Linked DNA regions of Homo sapiens. The protein of the gene in region 7 purifies or fractionates together with the protein of the main gene of each other region. This does not show direct contact. Each region holds a gene or a part of one and is shown on either strand. Other genes may lie near its edges.

Region 1 (4,660 bases), on a different chromosome or scaffold from region 7:
TGAGACAACCTGGGTTTAAATTCTAGGTATATTTTGAAAGCACAACCAATGGGATCTGCTGATAGATTGGCTGTAGAGCACGAGAGGAAGACCGGAGTCAAAAATGACTCCCGAGGAAATGGAAAAGCTAAAGTTGCTCTTAATTGAAGTGGGGAAGACTGAAGGAGGGACGGGGGTCCAACTTTGGACTTGATCCATTTGAGATGACTGTTAGAAACACAAGTCAAAATGTCAAGTATGTAGTTAAATATGCAAGTTTGGGACTGATGTCTGAAGATGTAAATTTAGAAGCCATCTGTATATAGATGGTATTTGATGACATGGGATTGGATGAGATCAAGGGTAAGCTGTAGACAGGGAAGAGGGCTGAGAACTGAATCCTAGGGCTAACAGGTCAGGGAGATGGGGAGGAAATCAGCAGAGAAGACTGAGGAGTGGCCAGAGAGTGAGAGGACAGCCAGGCAGGGCTGAGGACCTGGGCATCTGCAGGGGAAGGTGTTTCCAGGAGGAGGGAGAGCTGTGGCCAGTGCCACTGAGAGGTCAAGTAAAATGAAGACTGAGAAATGGCCACTGGGTTTAGCAACATGGGTCACTGTGACCTTGACAAGAACAGCTTCAGGGCCCTGGTGGGAGCCTGTCTGGGGTAGTCTCCATCCTTAAGAGGGGCCAGAGGAGAGGACTTGCTAACTCAGTCTCCATCCTTAAGAGAGGCCAGAGGAGAGGACTTGTTAACTCCAGAGCAGACCACTCTTTGGAGGAGTTTTGCTTCGAAAGGGAGCAGGATTGGCCGGGCACAGTGGCTCATGCCTGTAATCCCAGCACTTTGGGAGGCCGAGGTGGGCGGATCACGAGGTCAGGAGATCGAGACCATCCTGGCTAACACGGTGAAACCCCTTCTCTACTAAAAAATAGAAAAAATTAGCCAGGCATGGTGGCGGGTGCCTGTAGTCCCAGCTACTCAGGAGGCTGAGGTGGGAGAATGGCGTGAACCCGGGAGGCGGAGCTTGCAGTGAGCCGAGATAGTGCCACTGCACTCCAGCCTGGGGCGACAGAGTAAGACTCCGTCTCAAAAAAAAAAGAAAAAAAGGGAGCAGGATTACAGCTGCAAGAGGATGGATGTGAGACCAAGAGGTTAGTTTGTTCTTTAAGGATGGCAGAAGTCACAGCATGTTTCATGTTGGTGAAAATGGTCCGACTGAGAAGGGAAAATCAACGATGCAGGAGGCAGAGGGGACAGTTTCTGGAGGGATGTCCTTGCGTAAGTGAAAATCACAGAATTTCCCCCGGGCTTCCTCAATTTCTCTAGAGGTCTGCTCCAGGTAGACTGAGGCCTCCCAGGGGCTCAGCTTACCTCTGCTGCACACCCCTCAATGAGGTAGCCCCACCCTGGCTCACCTGGGCCTTGTCCAGCAGTCCATACACGGTGAAGATGTTGGTGTCGGGCCGGACCATCACGGCGTGGGGTGGTATCTGTGCCAGGTTGCAGGCTGCAAACTGGGACACCTCGGCTCGGGCCCCGTTGGGGCACAGCAGTTCATAGTCCTCTGACCTGAGCTCAGCAGCCCAGGGCTCGGAATTGTGGCCTGAGGGGGGTAAAGCAGTGTGTGTGGGGACGTTCCGGGAGTGGAGAGAAGTGTAAAGAGAAGCTGCTATCCTGGGACCCCAAGGCCTTCACCACAGGGAGGTGGCAACATCTGGCCAGCTCCCCAACCCTCTCCATTCTCCACGTGCTCTGCTGTGTTACCGGGGTGAAAGAACCCAGCTGTGTTCATGCCATTAGCAGGAGCTGCCATTAATTAGCAGGGAGTAGGGAGTACCTACTATGTGACAAGTACTTTACACGCGTTGCTTGATCCCCACAACAGTAACGCAGGGTAGGTGTTTTTGTCCCCATTTTACAGGTGAGGAAACTGAGGCTGTTAATCACTCCCAGGCAGAGAACCCCATCTATGTGTTACATCCTCAAGCCTGAGTGTGGGGTGGCTCCCTGAAGGTGGTGGGTGATTGTCCCTAAGGGCTGAAGTTCTCAAATGGAACAGGGTATAGCATCACTTGTGGATGCAGAAGGCAGCTTCAAGGGCCCTTGCTTGCAAAGAATCTTATTCAGGAGGTCTCAGATCAGGCTCAAGAATCTGCATGTTAAACCAGCATCCCACTGATTCTAAAGCAGGCGGTCTCGGGCTGCCTGAGAAAATGCTGCCCTCAGGAATCACATTTTCATGTCTCTGTGCATTCACTTAGTATCCATCCTCCTCCCATTTCCAGGAAATCCAGGTGGGCCTTGAGGAGAGCTAAAGATAAAAGGGAAAGGAGTGGCCCTGGGAGGCGGGTGACTCACTGCAAGTGAACCTCCCAAGGCCTCTCCAGCACCTGCCCGCCTCCCCTGACCCCATCCCAGACGACACCATGCACAGATCTGGGACCAGGCAGGCCCGCTGGGCTCGTGCAGGAGCACACAGCCCCTCCCTGGGGGAGGGTTTCAGGTGTTCTTGGTAGGAGGCTGGGTGGGGGAGCTGGGCTGTGGCAACAGGAAGGGTTCAGGGCCTGGAGCCCTCCCTAGCTCTGCTGGGGCAAATGGTCCTACCGCCTTGGTGACCCCCATAGGAGGCAAGATCCAAGTTTTGAAACACTAACTGAGGTTTTCGTTTTTTTCCCTGCACGTCTTGCTTCCCATTGTCCAGTCCCCTCCCCACCGGGCCACAGTTGTGCCTTTCTGGGCTAAGTCTATAGGAGGAGACATGTTGGGAGCGAGTGGAGAAGACTGGGCCTCCAGCATTTGGGGTTTCAAAGCCTGGGGTGTAGGCAGGGTATGCAGACAGTACAAGCCTTTGGTGTTGGAGGAAAACAGCCTCTAGTCTTCAAAACGGACACAGATTCCTTCACGGAGAACAAGAAGAAGGGGAAGTGATATAAGTCAGGGGAGCGTGTGCTCTGATAGGACCATGTATGTACTGGGGTCCCGGAGCAGAGCGTTCCTGAGCTCTTTGTCCCAGGCGGAGCCCAGGAAGGTGACTCCAGGAAGAAAACCCCCTGTGTGGTATGTTGGGCGTGCCCTGCCTCGGTGTGGCTTGGGGGCTGCAGAGAGATTTCCTTGCATGAGGCAGTGACCTGCTCAGGAACACAGACCAGATACTGATTGAACTCATGACCCTGTGGAGAGGCTCATGCCACTCCCACCTCACACCTTGGCACTACATCAATACTCCCAGAAGGGGGTCTTTCCAGATTGACTGGGATTGAGTTTCTACCGTTTCGGTGGATTAGGGACTTGAATTCCAGGCCAGTAAAAACCGTCATGTATCCAGCACCCCTGGATGTGTGGTCTGAGGTCTGTTCTTACCCTGTGACCCTTGGGGCTCCCAGCTTCCCAGGGGGCACAGCCTTCTAGACTCAGCCTCTCTGAGCTGCTGCTTGGCCCCAGCCCAGCATGGTGTCTGGATGGTGCTGAAGATGGGGAACAGTCCCCCCGACCTACCTTTGGCCCTGCTCTTGCCCCCACCTACCGTTTGTGTTGTCAAAGACGGTTGTGTGCCTGACGAAGGCAACGTCACCCGCATTCTCCACCAGGCACCTGCCACACAGAGGGCAGGGCAGGCGTCGGCAGGAGGGTCCCAGCCTCTGCACACAGCCCCAGACTGCCAGGCCACCCGGGTACCTGAAGGCGCCGCGGTAGCCGTAATACCGCTCCTGGCTGTTGCCCACACACTTGTTGCGGCCCTGCTCGTCCCCCACGCACAGTGCACACAGCGAGGAGGGGTAGTTCTTGGGGTTGTTCACGGGCACGCAGCTGGCATTGAAGAACTCGCTCACTGCTGGGGTGGAGGGAAGGGCAATGATGAGGGGCCAGCAGTGGAAAGTGTGGGAGGGAGCTGGGCGGGCCGCTCCCCCACAGGTCTGCCCACCCCCCGGATCCTACACTGCAAGGCCACCTGTCTGCTCCGCTCCCCTCAGCTCTGAGTGGAGTGTCTCCTGGAGGATCTCAGTGCGGGGAATGCAGAGGTTGTCTAGATACAGCATCTCCATCACCAAACATCACCCAGCCTTCACTTGAACTCCCTCAGGGACAGGGATCTCACTACCTCACTATTTTGTTCCAATCAGAGCAGGTGTCCAGCTGTCTGGGAGTGGGAGCTGCCAACCCTAGTGCCCTCTGTGTGCTTGTGTCAGTGGTTAGAAAAAAAAGTGCTTGTATGTTTTCTGAGTTAACAGCCAGGACAGAGGTGTGTGGCCTGTCAGCCCAAGGGTCTTGCCAGTTTCCATGAATATTGTGTGATCTAACACACTGGAGGGGCTTCATGTATAGCATATGGTGGGTCCTTCTGTCCCCAGCTTATGGAGATACCTGGGCACATATGCAGAAGCCTGGCCACCTTCCAACAAGGTCCTCTCCCCAACAGGCTGCGGGTCCCTAGCTAACCCCAGAGAAGGCTTCCCCAGTCTGCGTTCCTAAAAAGGGGGGGGTACCTGTGAGGACGTCACAGTCCTTGGGCCGGATGAAGCCTCTCTGAATAAGGGCACCCACGGGGACATCCCAGCCTGCAGGGCTGCCGAAACCGGCGTGGCAGGAGCGCTTGCCCCGAAGCTCATCCAAGGTGAAGGCGTGGGAGCTGTCCCGTCTCACCACGGCCACCACGTAGTACGAGTTGCTGCTGTCTTCCGC
Region 2 (4,165 bases), on a different chromosome or scaffold from region 7:
GAGTCTCATGGCATCTGCAACAGGCAGAACCACATTTTAAACAAAGGTTGAGTTACTTCTAAAACCTGTGCTTTGCTAGTCTTCTGTTCTGCAACACTGGTTAAGAGCATAGACTCTAGAGCCATGCTGCCTGGGTTTGAGTCTTGATTCTGCCACTTACTAGTTGGGAGACATTGGGCAGGTTACTTAGCTACCCTCCTCCTTGGGCTGTTCATCTGTAACATAGGGATAATAATGTCCTTGTAGCATGGGTTGCTCTGAGGATTAAAGGAATCCATATATGTAAAGCACTCAGTGTCTGGTGCATAGAAAACACTAAATGCCAGCCATTATTATTAATTTATATATCAACTCATTGTTTTTCTTTGGATGATAGAAACTTAATCTCAGAAGTTTGAGGTTTTTCTAACTACCCACCCTTACCCCAACCCCTGCCAAGGGTTGCGTCTGTATTCCCAAGGGGCTTAGACTGTTACCTGGTATATAGTAGCCTCAAGTAAATGCTGGTGATGATAATAGGGCAGTGCCAAGACATTGGGGGTGTGGGAAGGCAGGGTTAGGGGATGGCATCTGCGCCTCATCAGCATCGATCCTCCATGGTGTCGTATCCTGAAAGTGGGAAAGGCGCTGTCCAGATAGACGCTTATCTCGTAGACAGAACAAGAACGGGGAGGCAACCATTATTTCACATACAGCAAGTTACTGTTATTTTAATGCCCTAACAATGAATCTATATTTAATTAACTTAAAAGATAGGGGAGGTGAGAGTATTATTCACTAAGTTCTTGGTCAAGGCACATTAAATCAAAGCGGTTAGCACTTAGATCTCTTCCAGGGATAAATTATCTCAGACAAGCTTCAAGGTATGCCATGCTTTGGAATGAATTGTCACTTTCCAACCACCACCACTCAACCTGTGATCTGACCACAGTGTCTTCCTCCTGTCTCCCTTCCCTCTGGGTGCCTGGGAAGGCTGGGCTTCTGCACTGTTCTGCCACTGACTTAAGCTTTGTCGTGACTATACCTTCCACTTCTCTTCTAGCTTAAGAGTTGGACAGTGGAGGACCTTCAGAAGAGGCTCTTGGCCCTGGACCCCATGATGGAGCAGGAGATTGAAGAGATCCGGCAGAAGTACCAGTCCAAGCGGCAGCCCATCCTGGATGCCATAGAGGCTAAGAAGAGACGGCAACAAAACTTCTGAGCAAGGCCAGGCTGTGAGGGCCCCAGCTCCACCCAGGCTTTGGGTGAATTCTGGATGGCTTGCCTCATGTTTGTTAGCCAGCACTTCTGCTCTGTCGTCTCTCCACAGCACCTTTGTGAACTCAGGAATGTGCGCCAGTGGGAAGGGCTCTCTTGACAGTCAGCGTGCCATCTTGATGTGTGTATGTACATTGGTCAGGTATATTATCTCAAAGGATTTATATTGGCGCTTTTAACTCAGAGTTTTAAACCCCAGGAACAGAGACTCCTAGTTGAGTGATAGCTGGGAAAGTTTTACATTGTCTGTTTTTCTTCTCCCAATAGCTTTCAATTGTTCTTTCTGGAAGACTTTTAAAAAAATATAAATATGCATATATATATATAAATTATAAATAGATTCCCCACGCAGTGTGGTGGCATCTCTGTACAGGTACAGTTTTAAACGGTTTGCCTCTTTTCTGTAAGATTATGGTACTGTGGAACATGAGGGCAGAGGACACCGGGAGGCTGTTAGGGGGTCACTGAATCCCAGGAGCCAACCTCCCCCTTTGCAGGGCTGCATTTAAAAATTAGGTTTGGGACAGTTCTTGTACCGTGGTTTCAGCCTTGTGTGGTCATCACTGGCTTCTGGAGCTATTGGTGATGTCCAAGGGAAAGCTTTGAGAGTTTATGTTTACTCTTTGAGTCCCAGGAGAAGCCTGGCACCCTCTTTGCAAATTGGCCTTTGCTCTTTCAATGCCTTTCATCCATCTCCACTCTCTCAACTGCCTAAAGTCACAGCACAGATACTGCCCAGTGCCTTAAGAGGAGACATGATCTCTACCAGGGACTCTCAGCAAACACGGGACTGTGTTCAGTCCACAAAGGAAAAGCGTTTTTGAAGCTCTCATTGTTCATGTAAAAATCATACACGTGGCATGTTGCTCCACATTCCTTACACACAGGGGTAGAGGGGATTGCTTTTGTGACCCACGTTCAAATATGTGACTGTTTTCTTTTCTCTTTTACTGCTAAGCAGCCTGGAAAGGATAAATGAATATTAGACTAAGATTTGTTTTCCAGGAGGCTCAATCTGAACACACAGAATGTCAGAGCTGGAAGGGACTATAGAGATCATCTGATCTGATCCTCTTGTACGGATGATCGCAAAACTGAGGTGTAGAGAGGGGAATGGCCAAAATCACAAAGCAAGTTAGCGTTAAGAGCTGAGACTAGAATTCAGGGTCCTCACTCCCAGGCCACCGAACCATGCAGCCCCTTCTTTGGGGGAAGAGACCTGTGTCAGTCTTGGTTAATTGTTCCAGGGAACCTTGCTAACAGAAACTTGCTCTTGCCTTGGCTCTTCAGTAGATGACCTGGCTGTAAAGAGATTCCCTGGACGAGCCAGATCATTCAGTTTCAGCGAGTCCTTGAGCTCCACAACATCTACCAGATATAGCAGACAAGCACCCATGGAGGCAGGTTTCGGGCCTGAAGCAGATCAGAGGGCTTTGCAAAAGACAGCATAGAGCCATCTTCCTGCAACTTTACCTCTTTCCCTCAGATGGGGAGCCATGACTGGGTTGCACCTCAGGATACTGTAATTTGACTCCATAATTGCTTTTGCTCCTGAAACCTGGGAATCAATGGAAAGGCAGGGAATGTGCCTCTTCTGTGGCCAGATTCTGTTATTTGCAATTAAAGCAAGTTTTTAAAAAATGCAAGAGGCAGTTGTTAGTCTTCAGGGCTTGGCAACTGAAATAGCTATGTGGCGGATACGGAAAACAGAGGACAATTTGAGGATCTTGCTGGAATAATAAATGACAGCTACCATTTGTTGAGCACCTATTATATATCAGGCACTGAGCTGGGTAGGCTCTAAACTTCACAATAACCCTGTGACTTAACTACTTTATCTCCATTTTGTAGTTGAAGAAATAAGTTCAGAGAGAAAGATTCCTTCCCAAGGTCATGCAGCTAGTAAATGATAGAATCAGGATTCATAGCATCACTATAGGGGGTCAATATTTACACAAAAAAGGAAAGTCACAAGCCTGTTTAAAATGAAGTGACCACCTTTTCTTGCATAGACTAAATAACTCGAACTGGCATTTTTAGGTTGGAAAGACAGCTGAATTAGTAGTTAAGTCTGATAGCCAAGTAAGTTTTAAAAACCAAAGCATCCAGGATGCACACCCCTGCACCATTTGCTGTGCGAATTAATAGTTCTGTCTCTCTCTCTCTTTCTTTTTTCTTTTTATTCTTTGAGATGGATTTTCGCTCTTGTCGCCCAGGCTGGAGTACAATGGCACGATCTTGGCTCACTGCAACCTCCGCCTCCCGGGTTCAAGCGATTCTTCTGCTGGGATTACAGCATATGCCACCATGCCCAGATTATTTTTTTGTATTTGTAGTAGAGACGGGGTTTCACCATGTCAGTCAGGCTGGTCTTGAACTCCTGACCTCAGGTGATCCACCCGCCTCAGCCTCCCACACTGCTGGGATTACAGGCATGAGCCACCGCTCCTGGCCTCTCTTTCTTTTTTAAACAAAGAACTTTGCACTTGGCCAGAGAGGAGGAGAAAGCCCATTTTCTCCCTTCCTAAGCTAGATCCAAATAAAAGAAAGTTCAGTTTTCCCCCATAACTATTCTTGGGTCATGAACTTTGATCTGGAGTTTGTTTTGTTTCAGGAATGTGTGCACCCAGCTTGCTGATCCAACAAAGTCTATTGCTTACCAGTCTAGCTTGATGAAGCCTTTTGGCCAGAAGTCAATTTGTTTTGGATCAGAGAAATTTCCTGACAAGGTATATTTGTTTTCTAGTGACAGAAAGGCAAAGGAACAAGTCCTAGTTGTTGTTGTTGTTGTTGAATACTAAATTTAAGATATGTCAGCTTGCTTTCAATGAGCCTTGGGCTTCTGTTATTGCTTGAGCATTTGGAACTCGAGCTTCCAGAGAAATTTGAGGTCCTCGCTTGTTCTCTG
Region 3 (4,660 bases), on a different chromosome or scaffold from region 7:
ACCTAGGAACCTCCCACTCTTTTTTTTTTTTTCTGAGCTGGGCTATTCACTGAAAAAATACTCTTTATATAAAGGTTTTCAAGTTATCTTGATGGAACTGAGAAGGGATATGCTCTGAGTAGAGTCAACTCTTGTATATACTGACTTTTTTTTTTTTGAGACCGAGTCTCTATTTTTTTTTTTTTGAGACGGAAACTTGCTCTGTTGCCCAGGCTGGAGCACAGTGGTGCGATCTCAGCTCACTGCAAACTCCGCCTCATGGGTTCATGCCATTCTCCTGCCTCAGCCTCCTGAGTAGCTGGGACTATAAGCGCCCATCATCACGCCCGGCTAATTTTTTTTTTTTTGTATTTTTCAGTAGAGATGGGGTTTCACCATATTAGCCAGGATGGTCTCGATATCCTGACCCCATGATCCACCCGCCTCGGCCTCCCAAAGTGCTGGGATTACAGGCGTGAGCCACCGTGTCCGGCAGAGACCGAGTCTTGCTCTGTGGCCCAGGCTGGAGTGCAATGGCGCAATCTCGGCTCACTGCAACCTCTGCCTCCCCGGTTCAAGCTATTCTTCTGCCTCAGCCTCTAGGATTACAGGCATGTACCACCATGCCCGGCTAATTTTTGTATTTTTAGTAGAGACGGGGTTTCACCATGTTGACCAGGCTGGTCTCAAACTGCTGACCTCAAGTGATCCACCCTCCTTGGCCTCCTATAGTGCTGGGATTACAGGCGTGAGCCACCATGACTGACCATCTTCTTTTTTTTTTTTTTTTTCAACACAGAGTCTCACTCCATTGCCCAGGCTGGAGTGCAGTGGCATGATCTCGGCTCACAGCAACCTCCGCCTCCAGGGTTCCCGCGATTCTCCTGCCTCACCCTCCCGAGTAGCTGGGACTACAGGCGTGCACCACCACACCCAGCTAATTTTTATATTTTTAGTAGAGATGGGGTTTCAGCACGTTGACCAGGCTGGTCTTAAACTCCTGACCTCAAGTGATCCACCCGCCTCAGCCTCCCAACGTGCTGGGAATACAGGCCTAAGCCACCACACCCAGACCTGGACATCGTCTATATACAGTAGACTTTCAATTAACATCCCTGTTCCCTGCCCTATGTTCCACTCCTGGGCATCCTGTTCATTTCTGAGTTCCAAGTCTCTCTGGGGCTACACAAAAAGAGTGGCTGCCTCCTTGGCTTTATTTCTCCCCGTGTCCTCTAAATGTAGCCTCTCTGCCCTGTGGTATTGTCTACCGCTCCTTCATCTGTATTCTGTAGCCCACACATTTTCAGAAATCACTCAACCATCGATGGTCCCTTTCTCCTCCAGTTTTTCTGCTAGTGTGGGTAGGTTGGTCTTTTTTAATCCTTCACTATCCTTTTGGAAGGATCTGGGGAGGGTGAAGGGATAAACGTGTGGCTAGATTTACCTTCTTTCATTGGAAGTTGATTCAAATTTTCAAACTGAGATGCATTTTCAAAGAAGCATTCCATACAAATTTTAAAAGTAAAAGAGGAATATAAACTGAATTTTTTTTTTTTTGGAACAAAGTTTCACTCTCGTTGCCCAGGCTGGAGTGCAATGGCGTGATCTCGGCTCACTGCAACCTCTGCCTCCCGGGTCCAAGCGATTCTCCTGCCTCAGCCTCCTGAGTAGCTGGGATTACAGGTGCGCACCACCACGCCCGGCTAATTTTTGTATACTCAGTAGAGACAGGGTTTCACCATGCTGACCAGGCTGGTCTGAACTTCTGACCTCAGGTGATGCACCCGCCTCGGCCTCACAAAGTACTGGGATTACAGGCGTGAGCCACCACGTCCGGCATAAACTGAATTTCATTGCCCCAAAGTTAACCCCATGAGGTGAAGGGAATACATTTTAAAAAGCTTTCCATTAAGTCATAAGAGAGCAATATTAGGTAAACTCTTCAGTGCTCAGGGGGAACAAGATGAAATATGAAAAGGGTCAAGGTCAGGAAGAACAGTCTCTGAATTTAATAAGCCCAAAAGTCAACAAAGAGATAATCAACAATTGATACTAAAGTTATTCCTCTATTTAGGTTAGAATGAAGAAAAAGAGTAAACAAAATAAGAAGGCAGATCATGGTAAGTGAAAAGTGACAAAAAAAAGTTGTATTTTCTAGGGGAAAGAATCTATTTCACTAAAGACACCTCCGTTTTCATAGTTCTGTACGTATTGAGAATTATAGACAGTATAATCCAGGCTTCAAGAAACCGAGGGTAAAGGATTCTAGAACTATCAAGATATCATCAGTTTACACTGTGGGACAGAGATAACGATCCCAAGAAGAACAACCTTGGACTTGCTGCTCATTAAGTGTTTGTTTTTGTTTTTTGTTCTTTTTTCTTTTTATTCATTAAGTATTTATATTCCACACTATAATAAAAAGCAATGTGCATCCTGATTCAACACTGTCACACCTGTGTTGTCACTTCACACCTGTGCCTAACAACAGTTCAGTTTATAAAAGCTAATTTAAAAATGACACTAATTCAAAAATTGGCCTTACTAAAAGCCAATACATTAAACTATATTTATTTCAACAACTGTTTTTAAAAGTATCTCTTTCCTTTATCTATAAAGTTTTTTGTTGTTGTTGTTTTGTTTCGAGACAGAGTCTTGCTCTGTTATCCAGGCTGGAGTGCAGTGGCGCAATCTTAGCTCACTGCAACCTCCGCCTCACAGGTTCAAGCGATTCTCCTGCCTCAGCCTCCTGAGTAGCTGGGACTACAGGTGTGCATCACTTTGCCCAGCTAATTTTTGTATATTTAGTAGAGATGGGGTTTCACCATATTGGTCAGGCTGGACTCAAACTCCTGACCTCGTGATCTGCCCACCTCAGCCTCTTAAAAGTGCTAGGATTACAGGCATGAGCCACCGCGCCCAGTCATGTTTTTTTCTTTTTCTTTTTTTAACTAGTACATCAGTAATGGCACTGAGTCCATTTCTTAAGCCCCTAAGTAATACACTTTCTTTTTTTTGTTTGAGATGGAGTCTCGCTCTGTTGCCCAGGCTGGAGTACAGTGGCGCCATCTTGGCTCACTGCAACCTCTGTCTCCCGGGTTCAAGCGATTCTCCTGCCTCAGCCTCTCAAGTAGCTGGGATTACAGGTATGCGCCACTGTGCCTGGCTAGTTTTTGTATTTTTAGTAGAGATGGGGTTTCATCATGTTGGCCAGGCTGGTCTTGAACTCCTGACCTCAGGTGATCTACCCACCTCGGCCTCCGAAAGTGCTGGGATTACAGGCGTGAGCTGCCCCACCTGGCCCACACTTTCTTTATATATACTGACTATATTCTTATGTCTGTTGCTATCCACTTCAGATGATGTTAAGGAATAACTCGTGTCCCAGATTATATAGATCCAAAAGCAGGATGAGAAGAACCACAGACATGGCCAGGAGTGGTGTAATCATGCCTGTAATCCCAGCACTTTGGGAGGCCGAGGTGGATGGATCACTTGAGGTCAGGAGTTTGAGACCAGCCTGGCCAACATGGTGAAACCTTGTCGCTACTAAAAATACAAAAATTAGCTGGGCATGTATAGTTTTTTACATCTACTTTAGCCCCAAGATCTCCAACAGATATGAATGATATTTTAATTACCATGGAAGTCACTTAGGGAGAGACTGGATAGAAACAAGGGTGGGCAGACCGGGCTGGCTGTTTGGGAGGCTGAAATGGGAGGATTGCTTGAGCCCAGGAGTTTGAGGCCAGCCTGGGCAATACAGAGAGACTCTATCCCTTAAAAAGAAAATAACAGGCCGGGCGAGGTGGCTCACGCCTGTGATCCCAGCACTTTGGGAGGCTGAGGCGGGCGGATCACCTGAGGTCAGGAGTTCAAGACCAGCCTGACCAACATGGAGAAACCCCATCTCTACTAAAAATACAAAATTAGCCAAGCGTGGTGGTGCATGCCTGTAATCCCAGCTACTGGGAGGCTGAGGCAGGAGAATCGCTTGAAACTGGGAGGTGGAGACTACGGTGAGCCAAGATCATGCCACTGCACTCCAGCCTGGGCAACAAGAGCAAAACTCCATCTCAAAAAAAAAAAAAAAAAAAAGACACCTATAAAAAAAGGTGCTTCAAGGAGGGAGTAACCAGTTAATGATGTCAAAAGCTCTTGAGAGGTTAAATAGGTTGGCTAAGTGGTTAATTTTTTGCATCAAATATATGGCCTATTTAATACATTTACACATCCTGATTTAGACTTGATTTCACCACAGCTGAAAGGAAATAAACAAATCAAACAAATGTAAAAGTACAAATACACAATCATAAATTCCAAGCATCAGAATGGTTTCTAGCTTTCTAGGGGAAAAAACTCAATTATTTTATTCTCACCTAAATCTTACCTGAATCCAGTCTCCGAGGTAATATTGCTGGGGTAAGCATAGATTTTTTCTTCTTCAAGTATATCAGGCTCTGGTTTAGCTTTATTAAATCTCCGGATTTTCACTAAAATAATAAAGTCATTATTAGATCGAATTCTGAAAGACAAGTCTAGTTTCATTTTTTCAAATTATGCTAATTTGCCGTTCTTATTAACGTCCTTGAGTATTTCAAATTCTACTATGTGCCAGGCCTGTTCTAAGCCCTGGGAATATAGGGATTACATTAGTATTGAAATAGCAATAATAGCTGAC
Region 4 (3,962 bases), on a different chromosome or scaffold from region 7:
GTGGTAGGTGCCCTATACAAGTATACTGTTTTTTATCTTTTATACCACATTTTTACTGTACCTTTTCTGTGTTTAGATGCACTAATGCTTACCATTGTGTTATAGTTGCCAGCAGTATTCAGTACAGTAACATGCTGTACAGGTTTGTAGCCTAGGAGCAAAGGTCTGGGTGTGTAGTAGGCTATCCTACCTAGGTTTGTGTAATATACTCTATGTTTGCACAATGACAAAATTGCCTAACCATGCATTTCTCAGGACATATCCCTGTCATTAAGCTACACATGACTGTACTTTGAAATCAGGCAGTGTGATGCCTCCGACTTCATTCTTTTCACTCAAGATTGCTTTGGCTATTCGGAGTCTTTTGTGGTTCCGTGTTAATTTTAGGATTTTTTTTTTTCTATTTCTGTGAAAAATGATGTTGGAATTTTTTTTTCTTTTTGAGACAGAGTTTCACCCTTGTCGCCCAGGCTGCAGTGCAATGGCACAGTCTCAGCTCACTGCAACTTCTGCCTCCCAGGTTCAAGTAATTCTCCTGCCTCAGCCTCCCGAGTAGCTGGGATTACAGGGGCACATCACCACGCCTGGCTAATTTTTGTATTTTTAGTAGAGACGAGGTTTCACCATGTTGGCCAGGCTGGTCTGGAGCTCCTGACCTCAGGTGATCTGCCCACCTTGGCCTCCCAAAGTGCTGGGATTACAGGTGTAAGCCACCGTGCCCGGCAGAATTTTTTTTTTTTCTTTTTTCCTGAGACAGGGTCTGGCTTTGTTACCCACGCTGTTGTGCAGTGGTGCAATCTCGGCTCACTGCAAACTCCACCTCCTGGGCTCAGCCTCCTGAGTAGCTGGGACAACAGGCTCCAGCCACAACACCTGGCTGATTTTTTGGTATTTTTTATAGAGACAGGGTTTCACCATGTTGCCCAGGCTGGTCTCGGGCTCCTGAGCTCAAGCAGTCCACCTGCCTTGGCCTCCCAAAGTGCTGGAGATTACAGGTGTGAGCCATCACACCTGGCCTGCCATTGGAATTATGATAAAGATTGCGTGGAACCTATAGATTGCTTTGGATAGTATGGACATTTTAACAATATTCTTCCAGTCCATAAACAGAGGATATCTTACCATTTATTTGTATCATTTTCAGTTTCTTTCATCAATATTTTATAGTTTTCAGAATGCTATTAAGGTTTTTTTTTTTACATTTATTAAGTTCTACAATTACAGTACATTGCTGCAAACAGTGTTCTGTGGCAGAAATATAACATGGTGGCTCACACCTGTAATCCCAGCAGTTTGGGAGGCCAAGGCGGGTGGATCACTTGAGGTTAGGAGTTGAAACCAGCCTGGCCAATAGGGCGAAACCCCATCTCTACTAAAAATACAAAAATTAGCTGGGCGAGGTGGCGCACACATGTAATGCCAGCTACTCAGGGGGCTGAGGCAGAAGAATAGCTTGAACCCAGGAGGCGGAGGTTGTGGTAAGCCGAGATTACACCACTGCACTCCAGCCTGAGTGAGACTCCATCTAAAAAAAAAAAAAAAAAAAGAAGAACCAGGAATGGCATCCTAGAGTTACTGGGGCCCTTTTCTCAACTACACAGATTGTCAAACTTGGCAATATTACAAAACAATTCTGAAGACAATAAAATTATCTCTAAACCTAAACTGTCCAGTAGAGTAGCCACTAACCCCTATAGCTATTGAGCATTTGAATGTGGTCAGGCCAAACTAAGGTGTGCTATAGCAATATACAAACTACATTTCAATGACTTTGTACAAAAAAGAATGTAAAATATCCCTATAATAAAAAAAAGACGTAAAATATCCCATTAATCATTTGTTAGTTGATTACATGTTGAAATGATATTTTGGATATGTTGGGTTAAGTAAAATGTTAAAATTTCAGCTGTATTTTTTTTTTCTTTTCCGATGTGGCTACTAGAAAATTTAAAATGACACATGGCTCACATTTTACTTCTTTTAGCCAGTGCTGCTCTAGACTGAGTTTGCATGAGGTGTAACTGTCTAGAGCTATAGTGACATGTAAGTAATATACATGCTTTGTACAAAATCTCCCTATAAACTGCTGATTTTGAAATTGAAGTCATGAAAGACAGATTGAACCGATAGAGTCCTTTGAGAGTCACCAGTTACTGGTCCACTCTCTGTATCCTTTTGATATTTGCATTTGGCAAGTATAAACCCGACCAGGATAGGGGATGGGGGGAGGAATCCACTGGTTATTTGATGCAAAAAAAGAGGGAGAAAAAGTGGGGGGGTGCACTTATAGTCCCAGCTACTTGGGAGGCTGAGGTGGGAGGATCACTTGAGCCCAGGAGTATGCGTTTAGCCTGGGCAACATATGAAACCCCATCTCTTTTTTAAAAAAGGAAAAAAATGGTGAATAAGAGCAATGGTCATTGGCTGACAAGTAACAAACTATACATAAGAGAACTGTTAACCTAGTAGAGATTTTCATTGTGATCTATTACCTACAAAGTCTTCCTGTGGTTTCTCTTTAGGGGCAAGCTCTGTGTGATTGATTGGAAGACATCAGAGAAACCAAAGCCTTTTATTCAAAGTACATTTGACAACCCACTGCAAGTTGTGGCATACATGGGTGCCATGAACCATGATACCAACTACAGCTTTCAGGTCAGGACACTGAGCCTTTACTTAAAGCTTTGCTCAATGCTTACTTAAAACTATAACTCCGGGCCGGGCGCAGTGGCTCATGCCTGTAATCCTAGCACTTTGGGAGGCCAAGGCCGGTGGATCACTTGAGGTCAGGAGTTCAAGACCAGCCTGGCCAATATGGTGAAACCCTGTCTTTACCAAAAATACAAAAACTAGCTGGGCATGGTGGCTCATGCCTGTAATCCCAGCTATTCTAGTAGCTGAGGCAGGAGAATTGCTTGAACCCGCGAGGTGGAGGTTGTAGTGAGCCAAGATTGCGCCACTACACTCCAGCCTGGGCAAGAGAGTGAGACTCCATCTCGAATCTGTCTCAAAAAAAAAAAAAAAAACTTCTCAGTGGGGGGGTAGGAGGAGAAAAATTGTAAAAAAAAAAAAAGTTAAAAAATAGAACTCCTTGAGGTTTTTCCTTTTTTAATCTCTATTTTTATCCCATTGCTTAACGTCTTCCTTGTTCCTTTCCCACTTAAAAAAGCACTTTTTGGCTGGGCACAGTGGCTCACGCACTTTGGGAGGCCGAGGCAGGCAGATTGCTTGTGCTCAGGAGTTTGAGTCCAGCCTGGGCAACATAGTGAAACCCCGTATCTACAAAAAAAATACAAAAATTAGCTGGACATGGTGGCGCACACTTGTGCCAGCTACTTGGGAGGCTGAGGTGGGAGGATTGCTTGAGCCCAGGAAGTGGAGGTTCCAGTGAGCCGAGATTGTACCACTGCACTCTAGCCTGGCCGACAGAGCAAAACCCTGTCTCAAAAATAAATAAATAGGCCAGGTGTGGTGGCCCAAGCCTATAATTCCAGCACTTTGGGAGGCCGAGTTGGGCAGATCACCTGATGTCAGGAGTTCAAGACCAGCTTGGCTGACATGGCGAAACCCTGTCTCTACTAAAAATACAAAAATTAGCTGGGCGTGGTGGTGTGTGCCTCTAGTCCCACCTACTTGGGAGGCTGAGGCAGGAGAATCGCTTGAACCCAGGAGGCGGAGGTTGCGGTGAGCCAAGGTTGTTCCACTGCACTCCAGCCTGGGCAACAGAGCAAGACTGTCTCTCTCCAAATAAATAAATAAATAAATAAATAAATAAATAGCACTTTTTGGCCAGGGGTGGTGGCTCATGCCTGTAATCCCAGCACTTTGAAGGAGGCCGAGGTGGGCAGATTGCTTGAGCCCAGGAGTTCAAGACCAGCCTGGGCAACGTGACAAAACTCCATCATTACTAAAAATAGAAAAATCAGCCGGAAGTGGTGCCCGCCTCAGCTTCGAGGGTGCAA
Region 5 (4,660 bases), on a different chromosome or scaffold from region 7:
GGAGTGCAGGCGGCCTCTAGAAGCTTTTTCAAGGCAACGAAACAGATTTCCTCCTGGAGCATCCAGAAGGAACGCAGCCCTGCCAACATCTCGATTTTATAAAGCCCAGTAAGAACCCCATTTTGGATTTCTGACCTCCAGAACTGTAAGGATATACATTCGTGTTGTTCTAAGACACTAAGTTTATAACTTGTTTGCTTGCAAGAAGGGTAAAGAATAAATTAAAAACAGCAACAGCAACAAAAGGCCAGGCATGGTGACTCACGCCTGTAATCCCAGCACTTTGGGAGGCCGAGGCAAGAGGATCGTTTGAGCCCAGGAGCCTGAGACCAGCCTCGGAAACATAGCAAGACTCTGTCTCTACAAAAACAAACAAACACACAAACAAACAAACAAACAAAAAAAAACTGGATGTGATGGTGCATGCCTGTGGTCCCAGCTACTCAAGAGGCTGAAGTGGGAGGATTGCTTGAACCCAGGAATTCAAGGCTGTAGTGAGCCGTGATGCACTCCAGCCTGGGCGACAAGAGTGAGACTCAGTATCAAAAAGAAAAAAGGTCGGGCCTGGCGTCCTCACACTGGTAATCCCAGTGCTTTGGGAGGCTGAGATGGGTGGATCACTTGAGGTCAGGAGTTCGAGACCAGCCTGGCCAATATGGCGAAACTCCATCTCTACTAAAAATACCAAAATTAGCCGGTGTGGTGGCAGGCACCTGTAATCCCAGCTACTCAGGAAGCTGAGGCAGGAGAATCGCCTGAACCGGGGAGGCGGAGGTTGCAGCGAGGCAAGATCACACCACTGCACTCCAGCCTGGGCAATAAGAGCAAGACTGTCTCAAAAACAAACAAATGAACAAAAAAACACTCTCCAACGACACTGCCTGTGGTAGATGCTGTGAGTACACCACCTTCATCCCTTCCCACTCCAATTCAGACCTGCTGACTTCTTACTGCCAACATTTACCCAAAGACTTTGCTTGTGGACTTTCTCTGAACGCAGGCCAGCCGGCTCTGACCACTTAGGAATGGGCAGAAAGCCCTGGGAAATTAGCATCTCCAGATGCAACCTTCAAAAGACTGACCTGGTGGATCAATACCCCAGCTCCCTCATCTCTCTGGTGCAGCATGTCTTATGCTGCCTCCCACAGATCTCTAGAGGGCTGGAACTCCATTTGCTAGGAATAGTAACTTGCTTGATAACATACTGTTACGGGTTGAATCATGTCCCTCCTTTGGGGGGGAACATGTTGATGTCCTAACCCCCAGTATCTTAGAAGGTGACATTCTTTGGAAATAGGGTCTTTGCAGATCTAATTAGTTAAGATGAGTAGGGTAACAGGGTAGACCCTTAGTCCAGTATGACTGGTGTCCGTAGAGGAGAAAGACAGAGACACACACGGAGAAAGACAGCCAGGTGACAGCGGAGGCAGAGATTTGAGTGAATGTATCTACAAGCCAAAGAATGTCCAGGGTTGCTGGGAACAAGCAGAAACTGAAAGAAGGAAGGAAGGAAGGATTCTCCCCTAACAAGTTTGAGAGGGAGTATGGCTCTGCTGACACCTTGATTTTGCACTTCTGGCCTCTGGAACTGTGAGACAATAACTTTCTGTTGTTTTAAGCCAACCAGTTTGTGATACTTTGTTACAGCAGTCCTAGGAAACTAACATACTCATACTGTGTGCATTGACTCCCTGTCTCATTACCTCCCCAATAAATCACTTGTCCTCACGTCCCAGTTTCAGGGTCTGTTTTGGAAGGATCTCAAACTAAGACCAAAACTATTATTATTATTATTGAGACAGGGTCTCGCTCTCACACCCAGGCTGGAGTGCAGTGGTGAAATCTCGGCTCACTGCAACCTCCGCCTCCTGGGCTCAGGTGATCCTCCCTACTTCAACCTCTGGAGTAGCCAGGATTACAGCTGTGCACCACCACACCCGGCTAATTATCTTTATTTTTATTTTATTATTATTTTTTGAGACACAGTCTCACCCTGTCGCCTGGGTTGGAGTGCAATGGCACCATCTCGGCTCACTGCAACCCCACCTCCCAGGTTCAAGTGATTCTCCTGCATCAGCCTCCTGTGTAGCTGGGATTACAGGCTTATGCCACCGGGATTACAGGCATGTGCCACCAGGCTTGGCTAATTTTTTGCTTTTTTTTTGAGACGGAGTCTCGTTCTGTCGCCCAGGCTGGAGTGCAGCGGCACAATCTCAGCTCACTGCAACCTCCACCTCCCGGGTTCAAGAAATTCTCCTGTCTTAGCCTCCCAGGTAGCTGGGATTGCAGGCACACACAATCACACCCGGCTGATTTTTGTATTTTTAGTAAAGACAGGGTTTAACCATGTTGGCCAGGCTGGTCTCCAACTCCTGACCTCAAGTGATCTGCCTGCCTCTCCCTCCCAAAGTGCTGGGATTACAGGAGTGAGCCACCATGCCCGGCCCTATTATCTCTATTTTATAGAAAAGAAACTGAGGCTCGGGAAGTTACTTGCCCAAAGCTACAAAATAAAGGTGAGAACCAACATTCACAGCTGTATGTGAATCTAGAACTGTGCACCTGAAGACTTTAGGGTGGCTAATCCCTTCTGAAGCCTTCTGCCAAGGTGACTGTAAGAACAAGACCTTCTTTGCTTTGCGGCTGGGAGAGGCTTATAGGTTTCATTTCCTATGCCAATTCTAATCCACCAGAAATTGCTGCCTGAAACTGGAATTGTGTTGAGCAGGACTCAGTGCTGTGATGGATTAGTAATGCCTAGCCCAGGCACAGACTGGGTAAAATAGGCAAGTACTTAACATTATTGCCTTTGAAATTTTAGAAGCCTTCTTTTGGGTCTAGAACAGCACTTGCCAAATAGATGTTTAATGGGTTATTATTAAGATCAATCTGTTGAAAAGAAGTTCTAAAGACGGCCGGGTGTGGTGGCTCATGCCTGTAATCCCAGCATTTTTTTTTTTTTTTGAGATGAAATCTCGCTCTCTCACCCAGGGTGGAGGGCAGTGGCGCGATCTTGGCTCACAGCAAACTCCGCCTCCTGGGTTCAAGCGATTCTCCTGTCTCAGCCTCCCGAGTAGCTGGGATTACAGGTGCCCACCACCACGCCCAGCTATTTTTTGTATTTTTAGTAGAAATGGGGTTTCACCATGTTGGCCAGGATGGTCTTGATCTCTTGATCTTGTGATCCACCCCCCTCAGCCTCCCAAAGTGCTGGGATTACAGGTGTGAGCCACTGCACCTGGCAATTCCAGCATTTTGGGAGGCCGAGGTGGTCGGATCACTTGACGTCAGGAGTTCAAGACCAGCCTGGCCAACATAGTGAAACCCCGTCTCTACTAAAAATACAAAAATTAGCCTGGCGTGGTGGCGCACACCTGTAATCCCAGCTACTCGGCAGGCTGAGGCAGGAGAATTGCTTGAATCTGGGAGGCAGAGGTTGGAGTGAGCTGAGATCACACCACTGCACTCCAGCCTGGGTGACAGAGTGAGACTCTGTCTCAAAAAAAAAGAAAAAAAAAAGTTCTAAAGACTAGATTAATGTGGCCAGCACTGGGTTAAAAACAAAAAAAGTTAAATCACTTTACTGAGAGACTTCTCGGAGCCTTTAAGGGACAAACACAGATTTTGAAACTCCAAGGTTTCTAAAACCTCTTAGACTTTTAAAGTCCCTTTTTGGGTAAAGAATGCATTAAATAATAAGACTGTGTCTTCTTTCTGTCTTTCTTTCTTTCTTTTTTTTTTTTTTTGAGACAGGATCTTGCTCTGTTGCTGAAGCTGGAGTGCATTGGCATGATCACAGCTCACTGAAACCTCTGCGTACTGGGCTCAAGCAATTCTCCCATCTCAGCCTCCTGAGTAGCTGGCACTACAGGTGTGCACCACCACACCTGGCTATTTTTTTTTTTTTTGAGACAGAGTCTTGCTCTGTCACCCAGGCTGGAGTGCAGTGGCACGATCTCAGCTCACTGCAAGCTCCGCTTCCCAGGTTCATGCCATTCTCCTGCCTCAGCCTCCCAAGCAGCTGGGATTACAGGTGCCCGCCACCATGCCTGGCTAATTTTTTGTATTTTTAGTAGAGATGGGGTTTCACCATGTTGGCCAGGATGGTCTCGATCTCTTGACCTTGTGATCCACCCGCCTCGGCCTCCCAAAGTGCTGGGATTACAAGCGTGAGCCACCGTGCCTGGCCACCTGGCTAATTTTTAAATTGTTTTATAGAGACTGGTCTCGAACTCCTGGGCTCAAGCAATCCTCCCACCTCGGCCTCCCAAAGTGCTGGGATTACAGGCACAAGCCACTGCTCCTGGCCGCATCTTATTTCTACTCACAACTCTTTTTTTTTTTTTTTTTTTTTTGAGATGGAGTTTCACTCTGTCACCTGTGCAGTGCAAGAACTCGGCTCACTGCAACCCCCATGCCCCGCCCTGGGTTCAAGCGATTCTCCTACCTCAGACTCCTGAGTAGCTGGGATTATAGGTGCCCACCACCACGCTCGGCTAATTTTTGTATTTTTAGCAGAGCTGGGGTTTCACCATGTTGGCCAGGCTGGTCTTGAACTCCTGACCTCAGGTGATCCACCGGCCTCGGCTTCCCAACGTGCTGGGATTATAGGTGTGAGCCACCGTGACCGGCCTCTACTCATACCTCTTAATGGCTTCCT
Region 6 (4,660 bases), on a different chromosome or scaffold from region 7:
TTTCTGGGCAAGTTGCTTAATGTCTATGAGCTTGTTTCCCTACTTTTATGTTTTTTTTTTTTGAGACAAGGTATCCCTCTTGCCCAGGCGGGGGTGCAGTGGTGCAATCACTGCTCACTGTAAGCTGTAACTCCTGGGCCCAACAGGTCCTCCCACCTCAGCCTCCTGCGTGGCTGGGACCATAGGCACACAGCACCATGCCCCGCTAATTTTTGTATTTTTTAAAGAGACAAGGTTTCGCCATGTTTTTCAGCTGGTCTCGAATTCCTAAGCTCAAGCAATCCACCCACGTTGGCCTCCCAAAGTTTTGGGATTATAAGTGTGAGCCACCACACCTGTCCAATAAATATTCATTGAATTAATGAAATTCATTATTACTGATAGAGACTTCCCAGTTCAATACTTAAGCATCATTGTGTAAGTGAGTTAAATAAAGATCTGTCTTTTGATAGCTAAGAGGCTATGTCGAATTCCCTTTCAAACTACTTATGAATATGATTGCTTTCACTTAACTTTGGAGAAGGGAGATAATGGCTCATTTAGAAAACAACCAGGCCAGGTGCGGTGGCTCACGCCTGTAGTCCCAGCACTTTGGGAGGCCGAGGTGGGTGGATCGCTTGAGCTCACAAATTTGAGACCAGCCTGGGCAACATGGCAAAACCCCGTCATATATATATATTTATATATTTATATATATAAATAAAAATTAGCTGGGCATGGTGGTACATGCCGGTAGTCCCATCTACTTGAGAAGCTGAGGCTTGAGCCTTGGAGGTGGAAGGTGCAGTGAACTGAGATTGTGCCGCTGCACTCCAGCCTGGGTGATGGAAGGAGCCCCTGTCTCAAAAAAAGAAAAGATAATGACCAAGTGTTTCACTTTATGAAATTCATCATGTTACATAACTATTTCTTGTGATTTCTCACATTATTTGACTATAAGGACCAAACAGGCAAGTAAAGCAAGGATTACTTCACTAAAACTTCCCATGTGAAATATTTAGCTATCAGTCTTTTTTTTTTTTTTTTTTGGTCTCCCAGGCTGGAGTGCAGTGGCATGATCATGGCTCACTGTAGCCTTGACCTCTTGGGCTCAGGCGATTCTCCTAAAGTGCTGAGACTACAGGCGTGCACCACAATGCCTGGTTAATTTTTAAATTTTTTGTAAAGATGGAGTCTCACTATGTTGCCCAGATTGGTTTTGAACTCCTGGGCTCGAGTGATCATCCCACCTCTGTCTCCCAAAGTGCTGGGATACAGGCATGAGCCACCACGCCCGGCCAAGCTGTGAGTGTTTGTTATTATTAAAATTAATAATTATTAAAATATTTTATTATACTTTAAGTTCTGGATACATGTGCAGAATGTGCAGGTTTGTCACATATGTACACATGTGCCATAGTGGTTTGCTGCACCCATCAACTGGTCATCTAGGTTTTAAGCCCTGCATGCATTAGGTATTTGTCCTAGTGCTCTCCCTCCCCTTGCCACCTGCCCCCCGACAAGCCCTGGTGTGTGATGTTCCCCTCCCTGTGCCCATGTGTTCTCATTGTTCAACTGCCACTTATGAGTGAGAACATGCAGCGTTTGCTTTTCTGTTCCTATGTTAGTTTACTGAGAATGATGGTTTCCAGCTTCATCCATGTCCCTGCAAAGGACATGAACTCATTCTCTTTTATGGCTGCGTAAAATATTATTCTATCATATCATGAACTCCACAATGACAGGAACTATATCTTTATACCTGGAACAGTACCTTGTTATATAGTAACTAATCATATCCAGACCTTGTCTATTTTGAAAGCATTTTCATAAACTGCTAGTTTCAAGAATTCTTTTGTAAAACTTTTGAAGAAGGTTTTATTTTTAATTTTTTTTCTTTTTTACTTTTTTGTAATATAAAGAAAAGTATCAGAACTTAGCCAAGGTCACACAGCTAATGTGTTTAGTTGAAGATTCAGACCCAGGTTTGGTTATCATTTAAAGCTATTTTTCTATGGTGAAATACTGTTTTTCTTTAAAATTCAGGATTTTACTATTCAGACACTAAAATGTTTTTTAACTAGAAACTCAATGGCATATACCTGCCTTCACAGTTGTCTGTGCTTTAGTTGGTAGTGATGAACAAGAATATAGCTTATTTAAGAGTTTGAAAAGAAAATGCAGAAAAGAAAATGAAAATAAGCCCCTTCTGCCTTCTCCTTAGGAGTGTGTGCCTCTTGATGCAGGTCTCAATGCCGTGTGTTCTCTTTGCTGCTTCTCCATCAGAACTTCATTTGAAAGGTGGAACTAATGCTGAAATGGCACCACAGATCGATTATACAGTGATGGTAAGGGCTTTTGTTGTTGACAAACTAAGATGATCTCATACATGCTTCTGAGTCTCCATTCTCTAAATATATCCTGAGTGTTTTTTTGTGACTTTCTTGTTTATCTCTTCATGGTGTCTTTTCTTTCTTTCTTTCTTTTTTTTTTTGAGACAGTGCTGTTGCCAAGGCTGGAGTACAGTTGCATATCACAGCTCACTGCATACTCAACCTCCTGAGCTCAAGCAATCCTCCTGTCTTGGCCTCCTGAGTAGCTGGGACTACAGGCACACACCCAGCCAATTTTTTTAAATTTTTTGTAGAGTCGATGCCTCACTATGTTGCCTAGGCTGGTCTTGAACTCCTGAGCTCTAAGGATCCTCCCACCTCAGCCTCCCAAATGTGTCTATTGCAGTAGGGGGTGGGGAATTATGTTTACTTTAAGTTTGTTGTTATATCTTGGAATAGTGTTTATAGTGAATTAAAAAAAAAAACTCAAGTGTAGGGCCCGGTGTGGTGGCTCACACCTGTAATCCTAGCACTCTGGGAGGCTGAGGTAGGCAGATCACTTGAGCTTAGAAGTTCAAGACCAGCCTGGGCAACATGGTGAAATCCCATCTCTACAAAAAAATAATATAAATAAAAAACAAAAAACACTACACACAGAAAAATTAGCCAGGCATGGTGGTGCACACCTGTCCAAGCTACTCAGGAGGCTGAGGTGGGAGGATCACTTGAGCCTGGGAGGTTGAGTTTGCAGTGAGCTATGTTGGCACTCCATCCTGGGTGATAAAGCAAGATGCTGTCTTTAAAAAAACAAAAAACACCTCGAGTGTGATATAAATTATATCAGTTGTGATGTGTTATTTTATAAATACAAGGATTATGATTTGGAGGGAAACTCAAACTTTTTTTTTCTATTAAGCCCCTTCCATTCTAGGATCAAACATTTAAAAAATGATTTAAAAAATACTGGCATGCTCATATAACTAGTGGGAGAGAAAAGTGGTATAATCTTTTTTCTTCTAGATTTATTAAAGTGTAATTTTTTCAATTGAATCCACCCTTTTTAACATGCAGTTCTGTGATTTTTGACAGTGACATGATTCACAGTTATGAACCATCTACCACAATCAAGACATAGAATAGTTCCGTTACTCTAAAAAATTCCCTTATACGTTTTTGTAATCAGTCCTGAGCCTCAGCCCCTGGCAACTGCTGATCTGTTTTCTGTCATAGTTTTGCCTTTTGTTCAGAATGTCATATAAGGGATAATACTGTACGTAGGCTTTGAGTCTGGGTTTTTTGCTCTCCATAATACATTTGAGATTCATCCATGTTGCTTGTATCTGCAATGAAAACTTGAGTTGTGTTCTCGTATATGGATGTACCAGTTTGCATATCCATTCATCTATTGAAGGGCATTTGGGTGTTTCCAGATTTTGGCAATTATAAATTAAGTTACTGTTAACATTCATATACAAGTTTTTGTGTGATTGTACATTTTCATTTCTCTTGGGAAAATACTTGCTGGGTTGTTATAATAAGCAAATGTCTAACTTTATAATACATAGCCAGGTTATTTTAGCTTCCAAAGTGGCTACATTTTGCATTATTACCAGTACTATATGAGAGTTCCAGCTGAAGTGGGCACAGTGGTGTGTGCCTATAGTCCCAGCTATTTAATACTTGGTAGGGTGAGGTGGGAGGATCTCTTGAGCTTAAGCTGGAGTCTAGCCTGGGTAACATAGCGAGACCCCATCTCTAAAATAAAAATAAATATCAAATAGAGGGTTCCAGCTGTTCTGTATCCATCCTAGCACTTGATATTTTCAGGTTTTTATTTGTTAAGCTTTTTCTGCCTTTAAAAAAAAACACAAAACAAGGTTAATAACCTGTATACCTCCTGGATACATAGGAGACAACCCAGAGAAATAAGTAAATCTCTAGAGTAGATCTCAAAGAGTTGCCTTAGACATCAGGCTTAAACACCATCTTTCTCTGAAATATTGCCATTCTAATAGATGGTATAATCTTTTCAAAGTCAGTTCGATGGGATGTATAATAAAAATTAATCTCTCCTCACCTAATAATTTGACTTCAAGGAAACTCCTCTAATTCAATATTGCAAAGTTCAGCTAAAGATAAATGTTAAAGGTATTTGAACAGAGCATTATATACTGTAATTATCATTATATAAGATATATCATTATCTAATAATGAAAACTTGGAGAACCGTTAAGTCAATTAGGCTAGGATGCCATGGAGTCATTCAGATTTTGTTTAGGAATAATTTTATGATGTCAGGAAAATGCTTATGTTTATAATGTTAAAGCATTGTCTGTGGAATGAGATTT
Region 7 (3,860 bases):
GGGAACCCTGGGGAGCTGACAACTGGCTTCCTGTCCACCTCGGTGCCTGTGGGCTGACTTTTTTTTTCTTGGTTTTTTTTATTTGTTTGTTGTTTGCTTTGTTTTTTTGAGAAAGGGTCTCATTCTGTCACTCAGGCTGGAGTGTAGTGACGTGATCTCGGCTCACTGCAACTTCTGCCTCCCAGATTCAAGCGATTCTCGTGCCTCAGCCTCCAGAGTAGCTGGGATTACAGGCGCACGCCACCATGCCCAGCTAATTTTTGTATTTTTTGGTAGAGACGGGGTTTCACCATGTTGGCCAGGCTGGTCTCCAACTCCTGGATCAAGTGATCCACCCGCCTTGGCCTCCCAAAGGGCTGGGATTACAGGCGTGAGCCACCACGCCCGGCCAGGCTGAGTTTTTCTCCAGCGGTTCATCGAGTCCTCTGACAAAGCAAGGAGCTGATATAGGGCCAGTGGGACGGTCGCCAGTCAAGGGGCTGGGCTTGGTGGATAGATTAATACTCACTGGGCGTCCAGTCAAAACGCCCTGAAACCTATGATGCTGTCAACCAAACGAAGGCCAGGAATACCAAAATAGCCACATAGGCACAGCCCTTCCCCATGTTTCTGAGCACAGTGTTTCCTCTGGGGTCACACAGGTGTCTTCTTGATCAGCCTCAGCCATGCTTGGTGAGAGCCGGGCACTGGGAGAGCCAGGCACTGTGCTCTCCTGTGACGCTGTAGACACCATCCTAAGCTGTGCAGACCCCAGCGCTGCCCAGAGCGGAGCAGAGGGGGCCGGGCCAAGGAGTGGGAGCTGGGGTCAGGGAACCTGGAGGTGCAGTGGACAGAGCCCCGGAGACCGCCCTAGGGACCTACTCCAGACCAAACTCTGCCAGACCTCGGAGCACTGGGGCCTCCTTCTCTGCCCTCCCTCCTCAGGCAAGGCCTCTGGAGCTCCCCAGCTCTCATGGAAGCCCCAGGGGCCCAGGACTGACCCAGCCTCTTCCACAGCCAGAGTCCTGGTGGAGGACGATGAGATCATGCAGGGATTCATCAGGGCTTTCAGGCCCCTGCCCAGGCACCTATGGTACTTGCTGGACTTGAAACAGATGGAAGGTGAGCTCTGCCTAGGACACGCCCAGCCTCAGCTGGAGGAGAAGCTGCCTCTTTCTTAGCCCGAGCCCCCTGCTGGCTCTGCAGGACTCAGGTCACTCCTTTTTGGCCCCTCCCCTGTTCTCCCCTGGCCTTCTGGGGTGCAGAGCCACCCTGAGGTGGGGTCCTGCCCTCTCCCACCATCCTTTCATCCCTTCTCTAGCCCTGGGGCTGCTGTGTCCCCAGCTGTCTCTTCTCTCGCTGACACCTCCACTGTCCCATCTCCTCCCACAGAGCCGTGCCGTTTCTAGGTGAGCTCCTGCCTGGTCCTGCCTCCTGGGTAATGTATCAGCCTCGCCCACTGTCTGCGGCTGCCTCTCTGGGCCCCTGGGACAGACCCTACTGTGTCCAGTTCAGGGCTGACCCTACAGGAATGAACTGGGGTCTGGTCTTGTGATTCCAGAAAGCCAGGCTGCTGACGTCCCCATTCACGAGCCCAGCCTGTGTCTTGCAGCCATTGTATTAGTCACGGGCTTGTGCCCTATAGTCAGACCTCATGCTTTCTTTTGGGGTTAGGGGTGTTGGTTGGAAATGGTGGGGGCTATAGGAGGAGGAAGGAGGATGGTTACATGGAAGGGCATGAGAAGCTGGGGACCTGCAGGTCTCGGTCCCACGTTCTTTTTTTTTTTTCTTTTTTTAAGATGGAGTCTCGCTCTGTCACCAGGCTGGAGTGCAGTGGCACAATCTCAGCTCACTGCAACCTCGACCTCCTGGGTTCAAGCGATTCTCCTGCCTCAACCCCCCGAGTTGCTGGAACCACAGGCGTGTGCCACCATGCCCAGCTAATTTTTGTATTTTTAATAGAAACGGGGTTTCACCATGTTGGCCACGATGGTCTCAATCTCTTGACCTCATGATCCCCCCGCTTTAGCCTCCCAAAGTGCTGGGATTTCAGTGCCACATTCTTAAGGGGGTGTCCTCAAGCCCACCACATCCTTCCAGGGCTCCCCCGAAACACCCTGCTCTTCCTCCCTCTACTTAAGTGACCTGTAAACCCAACAGCTCACCTCCGCCTCCAGGAAGACCAGACTCCCACCCTTCCACACCTCCAGAGCAGTGGGACTTCCTCCTGCCCTTTCAAAGAATAACCACAGCTCAGAAGACGATGACGTGGTCATCTGTGTCGCCATCCCCTTCCTGCTGCACACCTGCACCACGGCCATGGGGAGGCTGCTCCCTGGGGGCAGAGTCTCTGGCAGAGGTTATTAATAAACCCTTGGAGCATGTCCTGTCTGGATGCGCAGCCACTGCTGGGTGTGGGATTCAGGGACGAGGGCCTGGGGTCGGGGCAGGCCCAGGCCACCGCCTGGCAGAACCGGAGCTCCTACAGACCCATGGGCAGCTTCTGGTGGAGAAAATACCTCAAGTTTCTTATCTACAAAACAAAAGGGTCCACTTTCACAAACTTGTGAAATGTCTAGAACAATAAAACCAGGACACTCATATCAGAATTGATGAGCCCAGAGGAAAACTCATAGTCTTTAATACTGAAATGGGTTAGCAAGAAATAATTAAAATCAATGAATCTGTAATGAGCTCTTGTTAGAAAAAAAAGCGTTAGAATGAGGAAAGTAAGAAAATAGAATGAAGGAAGATAAAAGCAAAAATGACAAAATCAGAGAAACATATCAAATTCATGCACCTGTGCCCCCAGGTGGGGAGGGGTGGGCATGGTAGGATTTAGCTCACCTGTCAGAAACACCCAGGAAAAAAAATTCCAGCAAGTATCAATCACCACAGATTAAGAGAAAATAGATTAAAAGAGTCATAAGGGATTATGCTATTTGACTCCAGAATATATTTTTTACAATCCAAAAGAGATGATTTCAAGGCAAATATAAGCATCCAAAACAGATCAGAGAAGACTGGAGACAGAGTAGGTAAGGACCCTTCCCAAGGCAGACAGACAGACACAGTCAGAGGTCTGTGTCCCAGCCCAGCCCCCAGCATCGAGAGCAGCCGGGCAAGCGGCCAGGGATCTCCTGCTCCTTTCGGGAACAGGTGAAACGAGGCAATGTGAAGAGTCGCAGGCATGGGGAGGGGGCAAAGCTTCCACACTCGTTTCTAATGCTGGGAAAATATCTCCATCAAAACTCCACAAAACCAGGCCCTACCAGGAGTAACTAGGACTTGTGAGGCAGTAAGGAACGTCCGCACTGTCTATATAACAAACAGGCCATTTTAACCCAGGCATGGGGGCTCACACCTGTAATCCCAGCACTTTGGGAGGCCGAGGCAGGCAGATAACCTGAGGTCAGGGGTTCGGGACCAGGATGGCCAACATGGTGAAACCCCATCTGTATTGAAAATAAAAAAAATCAGCTGGGTGTGGTGGCGGACGACCTATAATCCCAGCTACTCTGGAGGCTGAAGCAGGAGAATCGCTTGAGCCCAGGAGGCAGAGGTTGCAATGAGCCGAGATCGCACCATTGCACTCCAGCCTGGGTGACAGAGCGAGACTCCATCTCAAAAAAAAAAAAACCCAAAAAAACAACAACAACAACAACAACACTCAAATAGGCCATTTCATCCTCATGACTGCCCATGGGGCAGAAGCCCTTACTGTCTCATTGCCCAGCTGGTGGGTGGCACATGGACTGGCAGGGAGTCTAATACCCACACATGCAACCATTGCACCTGCTGGCTCCATCACCACACCACCCTGTGTGTCGAAGCAAACACCCCGAACAGTACCGGTGCCCCTGGAACCCAGTCACACGGTG

What was found.
Region 1: the proteins of PAEP (region 7) and MELTF purify together in Homo sapiens (co-immunoprecipitation; 2 studies listed by BioGRID and IntAct, with this or other methods). This does not show direct contact.
Region 2: the proteins of PAEP (region 7) and STK4 purify together in Homo sapiens (co-immunoprecipitation; 2 studies listed by BioGRID and IntAct, with this or other methods). This does not show direct contact.
Region 3: the proteins of PAEP (region 7) and TMEM192 purify together in Homo sapiens (affinity purification with mass spectrometry; one large-scale study listed by BioGRID and IntAct). This does not show direct contact.
Region 4: the proteins of PAEP (region 7) and MGME1 purify together in Homo sapiens (co-immunoprecipitation; 2 studies listed by BioGRID and IntAct, with this or other methods). This does not show direct contact.
Region 5: the proteins of PAEP (region 7) and SLC25A23 purify together in Homo sapiens (affinity purification with mass spectrometry; one large-scale study listed by BioGRID and IntAct). This does not show direct contact.
Region 6: the proteins of PAEP (region 7) and RTCA purify together in Homo sapiens (affinity purification with mass spectrometry; one large-scale study listed by BioGRID and IntAct). This does not show direct contact.

What each region holds. Positions count from the first base shown.
Region 1 is NC_000003.12:197,005,154-197,009,813, forward strand, and holds part of MELTF (melanotransferrin isoform 1 preproprotein), read right to left. Parts: intron 4,660-4,660; coding exon 4,465-4,659; intron 3,813-4,464; coding exon 3,656-3,812; intron 3,572-3,655; coding exon 3,504-3,571; intron 1,584-3,503; coding exon 1,396-1,583; intron 1-1,395. UniProt on the Homo sapiens protein: Involved in iron cellular uptake. Seems to be internalized and then recycled back to the cell membrane. Binds a single atom of iron per subunit. Could also bind zinc.
Region 2 is NC_000020.11:45,073,976-45,078,140, forward strand, and holds part of STK4 (serine/threonine-protein kinase 4), read left to right. Parts: intron 1-1,042; coding exon 1,043-1,201; 3' UTR 1,202-4,165. UniProt on the Homo sapiens protein: Stress-activated, pro-apoptotic kinase which, following caspase-cleavage, enters the nucleus and induces chromatin condensation followed by internucleosomal DNA fragmentation.
Region 3 is NC_000004.12:165,081,217-165,085,876, forward strand, and holds part of TMEM192 (transmembrane protein 192), read right to left. Parts: intron 4,473-4,660; coding exon 4,370-4,472; intron 1-4,369.
Region 4 is NC_000020.11:17,985,644-17,989,605, forward strand, and holds part of MGME1 (mitochondrial genome maintenance exonuclease 1 isoform 2 precursor), read left to right. Parts: intron 1-2,522; coding exon 2,523-2,655; intron 2,656-3,962. UniProt on the Homo sapiens protein: Metal-dependent single-stranded DNA (ssDNA) exonuclease involved in mitochondrial genome maintenance. Has preference for 5'-3' exonuclease activity but is also capable of endonuclease activity on linear substrates.
Region 5 is NC_000019.10:6,445,525-6,450,184, forward strand, and holds part of SLC25A23 (mitochondrial adenyl nucleotide antiporter SLC25A23), read right to left. Parts: intron 1-4,660. UniProt on the Homo sapiens protein: Electroneutral antiporter that mediates the transport of adenine nucleotides through the inner mitochondrial membrane. Originally identified as an ATP-magnesium/inorganic phosphate antiporter, it also acts as a broad specificity adenyl nucleotide antiporter.
Region 6 is NC_000001.11:100,268,354-100,273,013, forward strand, and holds part of RTCA (RNA 3'-terminal phosphate cyclase), read left to right. Parts: intron 1-2,203; coding exon 2,204-2,327; intron 2,328-4,660.
Region 7 is NC_000009.12:135,564,414-135,568,273, forward strand, and holds the end of PAEP (glycodelin isoform 1 precursor), read left to right. Parts: intron 1-924; coding exon of another isoform or gene 925-996; coding exon 997-1,101; intron 1,102-1,371; coding exon 1,372-1,388; exon of another isoform or gene 1,389-1,417; intron 1,418-2,120; exon of another isoform or gene 2,121-2,139; 3' UTR 2,140-2,542; downstream 2,543-3,860. UniProt on the Homo sapiens protein: Glycoprotein that regulates critical steps during fertilization and also has immunomonomodulatory effects. Four glycoforms, namely glycodelin-S, -A, -F and -C have been identified in reproductive tissues that differ in glycosylation and biological activity.